2 linked regions of the Homo sapiens genome follow. The protein of the gene in region 1 interacts with the protein of each later gene in a biochemical or structural test. Each region holds a gene or a part of one and is shown in the gene's direction. Other genes may lie near its edges.

Evidence for each region. Proteins that work in one complex are often made in the same cells at the same time.
Region 2: the proteins of UBE2L3 (region 1) and ITCH form a complex in vitro, tested with the Homo sapiens proteins (19 studies listed by BioGRID, with this or other methods).

The regions. Positions count from the first base shown.
Region 1 is NC_000022.11:21,609,062-21,612,717, forward strand, and holds part of UBE2L3 (ubiquitin-conjugating enzyme E2 L3), read left to right. Parts: intron 1-1,795; coding exon 1,796-1,982; intron 1,983-3,656. UniProt on the Homo sapiens protein: Ubiquitin-conjugating enzyme E2 that specifically acts with HECT-type and RBR family E3 ubiquitin-protein ligases.
Region 2 is NC_000020.11:34,506,117-34,509,272, forward strand, and holds part of ITCH (E3 ubiquitin-protein ligase Itchy homolog), read left to right. Parts: intron 1-1,578; coding exon 1,579-1,678; 3' UTR 1,679-3,156. UniProt on the Homo sapiens protein: Acts as an Acts as an E3 ubiquitin-protein ligase which accepts ubiquitin from an E2 ubiquitin-conjugating enzyme in the form of a thioester and then directly transfers the ubiquitin to targeted substrates.

The DNA.
Region 1 (3,656 bases):
TTTTTTTTTGTATTTTTAGTAGAGACGGGGTTTCACTGTGTTAGCCAGGATGGTCTCGATCTCCTGACCTCGTGATCCACCTGCCTTGGCCTCCCAAAGTGCTGGGATTACAGGCGTGAGCCACCGCGCCCGGCCGGCAGTTTCTTACAAAACTAAACATATGTCTTACCATTGGATCCAGCAATTACATTCCTTGGTATTTAGCCAAATGAATTGAAAACTTGTATCCACACAGATGCTTATAACAGCTTTATTCATTAATTGCTAAGGTTTGAAAGCAACCAAGATGTCCTTCAGTGGGTTAATGGATAAATAAATTGTGGTATATCTAGACAAATGACATTCAACACTAAGAAGAAATGAGTCTGGGTGCAGTGGCTCACACCTGTAATCCTAGTACTTTGGGAGGCCGAGACAGGCAGATCTCTTGAGCCCAGGAGTTTGAGACCAACCTGGACAACATAGCAAAACCCAGTCTCTATAAAAATACAAAAAAATTAGCTGGGGGTGGTGGTGCCTATCTGTAGTCTCAGCTACTTGGGAGGCTGAGGTGGGAGGATTGCTTGAGCCTGTGAAGTCAAGGTTGCAATGAGCCAAGATCACGCCACCATCCAGTGGGCAACAGAGCAAGACCCTGTCAAAAATAAATAAGTAAGTATGAAGTGGGGGAAAAACAAGTAACGGCTGGGCACAGTGGCTCACGCTTATAAACCCTGCATTTTGGGAGGCCGAGGCAGGCAGATCACTTGAGGTCAGGAGTTCAAGACCAGCCTGGCCAACATGGTGAAACCGCATGTCTACTAAAGATACAAAAATTAGCTGGGCATTGAGGCGGGTGCCTGTAATCCCAGCTACTTGGGAGGCTGAAGCAGGAGAATTGCTTGAACCCAGGAGGCGGAGGTTGCGGTGAGCCAAGATCGTGCCATTGCATTCTAGCCTGGGCAACAGACTCTGAAAAAATAATAATAATAAAAAGAACAAATAGCTTCTAACGACAAATTTATTTCTCACTTATTGAGGCTGGGAAGTCTGAAGATCAAGGTGCCAACAGATTCAGTGGCAACTGAGGGCCGGCTTCATGGTTTATAGATGGTGCCTTTTCACTGTGTCTTTATATGATGGAAAGGGCAAGGCAGTTCTCAGGGGCCTCTTTGATAAGGACACCAATCCCATCATGACCTAATCACTTCCCAATGGTCCCAACTCCTAATACCATCACATTGGTGATTAGGTTTCAACATAAGATTTTTGGGGAGATACATTCAGACATAGCAGCTACATATTGCATGATTCCAGCTATCATGTCTGATAACCACACAAAACCTATAGAATGTGCAACACCAAGTATGAGCCCTAACATAAACTAGGGAAGCTGAGTGGTAATGATGTGTTAAGGTAAAAGGTTCATTGGTGGTAACAAATTTGCCCCTCTGGTGAGGGATGCTGATAGTGGGAAAAGCTGTGTGTGTTCAGGGGCAGGGGGTATTTAGGAATTCTCTGTCCTTTCCTCTCAGTTTTGCTGTATACCTAAAGGTGTTCTAAAAAGTAAAGTCTATTTTTTAAAAAAGTATGAAGAGACCAGGACATCAATCTCAAGCCCCTTCTCAGTTTAGCAGATAGCTTGCTCTAGAAATACTTTTGGGTGGCTGGGTTGTCCTGAAGGTGGCAGGGCTTCAGTTGATACTTGAATCCCTTGAAATAAATTGATTTTTCAGATAAACAATTAAAACATTCCTGTCTTGGCCATAGGTTTATGAACCATGGTGTGTTCATTTTGATCTCTCTTTCCTTCCAGGACAACCCTCCATATGATAAGGGAGCCTTCAGAATCGAAATCAACTTTCCAGCAGAGTACCCATTCAAACCACCGAAGATCACATTTAAAACAAAGATCTATCACCCAAACATCGACGAAAAGGGGCAGGTCTGTCTGCCAGTAATTAGTGCCGAAAACTGGAAGCCAGCAACCAAAACCGACCAAGGTAAGACATGTGCCTGTGTCTTCCTCGGAGGGGGTCTTTGGGGGTGCTGCTCTGGGGTGGGGGCTTCTGGTACCAGATCAGACAGAATCCAGAGAATCTTTCAGGTACACGAAAAATGTAGCTGAGGTCCTGTCAGACCTTGTGGGAATGGCTCATCTCAGCTGAACTTTTGACCTGTATAGGGTTTGAGGAGGCCTTTCCAGTGCTCAGCCCTGGGCTGCCATCCACAGTGGGAACACACATGGACAGACAAGCCCAGTGGCTTGCTGCTGGTGCAGAGAGGTGCAGGCACTGGTCCCTGGAAGGGATGAAGGACTGTGGGGCTGCCTACAAGGGGAAGGGAGAGTGGGATTTAAGGTGGCCTCATGCAGTAGTTAGTGCCTGAACTCAGACTTGAAGGAGGAAAGGAGGTTGGAGAGGGCCTTCCAGGCTATAGGAAGGGCATGGGCTAGAGCCTAGTTGCTCGGGTGATGTGAGGGGAGGGACAGAGGCAGATGTAAGGGCAGTATTCCCAGATGAAGGCACGTAGTTGGCTTTAGTGGGCCTGGGATTCCCTGGAGTTGGATGTGGCTGTGCGTGGTGCACATGTCTGTGTGTGGCTGTGTGAACATAAACATGCTCATTCTTCTGGGAAGAATATTTGAGTCAGTATTGTGGTTGTCCTCCCTTTTGTCCCCTAGAAGTGACTAGTTTGTTATGGACTGTGTCTGGTTTTCATTTAATTCTAGACTTTCTTTTGAAGTCCTAATCTCATATTTTGATGGCTTCCTTTTAAGTACCTAAACCAGTATAAAGTCTGTTTAGATTAGAGTGGATGAAGCTGGCACTTGAGAGGCTGCAAGTGGAGGGTTTCTTTTAGGGGTGCTGCTCTAGGGTAGGGGCTCATGGGTCCTTCCTGATGCCAGATCAGACGGAGTCCAGAGAACTCCTACCTTACCAGGTGCACGCAAAGTATGGCTGAGGTGCCACCAGTCCCTGTGGGAATAACTCAGCTGAACTTTTGACCTGCACAGGGATTGAGGAGGTCCCTTGTTTTAGTGATTGAAAAAAGCCTTGGAAGGTGGAGTTCAAAGCCTTGCGCAAGAAAAATCAAGCCTCACTTGTTGGAAGTAATCACCATGAAAGGTGCCCATTAGACTCCCACACTGAGTAGAAGAAAGGAGTGGGTGCTAAACATTCAGTCAGGGCAGAACAGTCTCTAGTGGGCTTGGTCCTTGTTTGTGTACAAGCTGATGTTTATAAAAGCTTGACACAGTTCTTCTCAGTGCCTGGTTTTTTCTTTTCTTTTCTTTTCTTTTTTGGAAACGGAGTCTCGCTCTGTCACCAGGCTGGAGTGCAGTGGCGCGATCTCTGCTCACTGCAACCTCCGCCTCCCGAGTTCGCGCCATTCTCCTGCCTCAGCCTTCCGAGTAGCTGGGACTACAGGCACCCGCCACCACGCCCGGCTAATTTTTTGTATTTTTAGTAGAGACGGGGTTTCACCATGTTAGCCAGGATGGTCTCGATCTCCTGACCTCGTGATCCGCCCGCCTCGGCCTCCCAAAGTGCTGGGATTACAGGCGTAAGCCACCGCACCCAGCCGATTTTTTCTTTTCTTTTCTTTTTTTTTTTTTTTTTTTTTTTTTTTTGAGACGGAGTCACCCAGGCTGGAGTGCAGTGATGCCATCCCAGATC
Region 2 (3,156 bases), on another chromosome or scaffold:
TGCTGTAGCTCAATCTCCACTCATGCACCCTCCACCTCCCGGGCTCAAACTGTCCTCCTACCTTAGCCTCCCAAGTAGCTGGGACGACAGGCATGTGCTACCACACCTGGCCAATTTCTAAACTTTTTGTAGAGACAGAGTCTTACTTTGTTGCTCAGGCTGGTCTCGACCTCTTGAGCTCAAGCAATACTCCTGCTTTGACCTCCCAAAGTGCTGGAATTACAGGCCATCATGCCAGACCTAAAACATTTTTCATCTTGTAAAATTGAAATGGTACCCATTAAAGCAGGGGTCCCCAACTCCTGGTCCCCAGCCTGTTAGGAACTGGGCTGCACAGCAGGAGGTAAGTGGAGGGTGAATGAGCATTACCTGCTGAGCTCCACCACTTGTCAGATCAGCAGAGGCATTAGATTCTCATAGGAGCAATAACTATTGTGAACTGTGCATGTGAGGGATCTAGATTGTGCATTCCTTACGAGAATCTAACCTGAGGTGGAACAGTTTCATCCTGAAACCATCCCCCTCTCCACTCCTGTCCATGGAAAAATTGTCTTCCACAAAACCATTGCCTGGTGCCAAAAAGGCTGGAGACTGCTGCTTTAAACAATGACTCCCCATGACTCCCTTTCCCCAGGTCCTGGCAAACATCATTCTACTACTGTTTCTATGATTCTTTAGTACTTCGTAAGTGTAGAATCGTACCTTATTTGTCCTTTCCTGGCTGGCTTATTTCACTTAGAATAATATCTTTAATTTTCATCCATGTTGTAGCATGTGTCAGCATTTCCTCCTTTTTAATGCTGAATAATATTTGATAGTCTGGATATACTACATTTTGTTTATACATTCATCTGTCCATGGACACTTAGATTATTTCCACCTTTTGGCTGTTTATGCTGCTATAAACATAGGTATACTGTGGTAGAATATAGATATATCTGTCCATGGCCCTGCTTTCAGTTGTTTTGGGTATATACCCAGAGGTGGAATTCCTTGATCATGTAGTAATTCTATTTTTAATTTTTTGGGGGAATCTCGCCATACTGTTTTCCATAGTGACTACACTGCGTTATATTCCTACCTGTAGTGCAGAGGGGCTCCAATTTCTCCACATCCTCACATCCTTTTCAACTCTTGTTTTCTTCTGTTTTTTTTTTTTTTTTTTTTTTTTTTGGTTGTTGTTGTTGTTGTTTTGGTGTTTTAAATAATAGCCATCCCAACAGGTGTGAAGTGGTATCTCATTGTGGTTTTTATTTGCATGGTAAAGGATGTTGAGCATTTTTTTAATGTGCTTATTGGTCATTTGTATGTCTTTGGAGAAATCTCTATCCTTTGTTCATTTTTAAATATTGTTGAGTTTTAAGTTTTTTATATATTTTGGATACCAGTCCTTTATCAGATATATGATTTACAAATATTTTTTCCCATTTTTGGGTTATTTCACTTTCTTGATGGTATCCTTTGAAGCACAGTAGTATATTTTTGTGCTTCTATAGTAGTGTATAAAGTAGTATACTACACTACTCATTTGATTCTTTGCATATTTCCTTTTCTCAAACTAACAATTCTTGCTTTTAGTTTTAATCGCCTGGACCTGCCACCATACAAGAGCTATGAGCAACTGAAGGAAAAGCTGTTGTTTGCCATAGAAGAAACAGAAGGATTTGGACAAGAGTAACTTCTGAGAACTTGCACCATGAATGGGCAAGAACTTATTTGCAATGTTTGTCCTTCTCTGCCTGTTGCACATCTTGTAAAATTGGACAATGGCTCTTTAGAGAGTTATCTGAGTGTAAGTAAATTAATGTTCTCATTTAGATTTATCTCCCAGTGATTTCTACTCAGCGTTTCCAGAAATCAGGTCTGCAAATGACTAGTCAGAACCTTGCTTAACATGAGATTTTAACACAACAATGAAATTTGCCTTGTCTTATTCCACTAGTTTATTCCTTTAACAACAATATTTTATGTGTGTCAAAAGTCTCACTTGGGAGTAGTGTTTTTTTCTTTTAGACATTCTGCAGACATGCAGGGAAGTCCTTTGGTAACTGCAATATACAAGATTTTCCTATTAAGCCTCTTGGTAAGAGGCATTTGTTAAAAGTGCAAGCTTACTCCTGCTTCTGGGGATGTGAGCAAAATTCGGGCTTGTGTTCTCCCTCTCATTTTAGTCTGACTTGACTATTGTTTTTCCTTTCTGGCGCATGAATCCATACATCATTCCTGGAAGTGAGGCAAGACTCTTGCATCTCTACAAAGTAGTTTTGTCAATTTGAATTCAGGGAAAAGTTGGTCACAGCCTGCAAATGACTTCATTTGGAAGTCTGATTGTTTCAGTTGCCTGACAAATACTACACTTTACAAACAATGTTAACACTGTGATTCCTTCATTGTTTTAAGAAGTTAACCTAGGGCCGGGCATGGTGGCTCATACCTGTAATCCTAGCACTCTGGGAGGCCGAGGCAGGAGGATCCCTTTAGCCCAGGAGTTAAAGACCAGCCTGGGCAACATAGGGAGACCCTGTCTTTTTTTTGGGCAGCGTGGTGGGGGATAAATAAATAAAAGGAAAAAAAACTTAGCCTAGAATTAGAATTAATTTAATTGAATTCATCTAAAGATGTCTCTGGTGATTTTTATATGTTCCGCTATATAATTGATGCTTTATAGTTTTATCATAATCCAACAACTTCAGTTATATTTAATTATTGTTAAGGAGTTTAAGACTAGAAAGACTAGAGTGCTTTCTAGTCCAAATAGAGGTCAGTGAAACAGCTTTTGACATCAGATTTTCATTTGAGAGGGAGAGCTGTGGTACTGGCTAAAAAGAAAGGAAGATAACATCCAGTAACCACAGGAATATATTCTCTGTGAATTAAAAGTCTTCAAAGTTATCATTTCTCTGACATATGTTGGAGTAGTCATTTCCATTCTTTACATTGTCATGAACTGGATTGATAACCCTCATCTGCAATATTTTCACCCCTAAAATTTTTAACAGGGTTTCCTTTTTTTCTCACGACTATTTAAGTTTAGATTGCTCCATTATTAACTGATTAATGCACTTTGAAGTTCTCTGGAATTAATTATTTTAACTTGGCCTAGCTTCGACTGTCAAGGTGGCTGTTATAAATTTGACTTCATTGGCAGTGGATGAA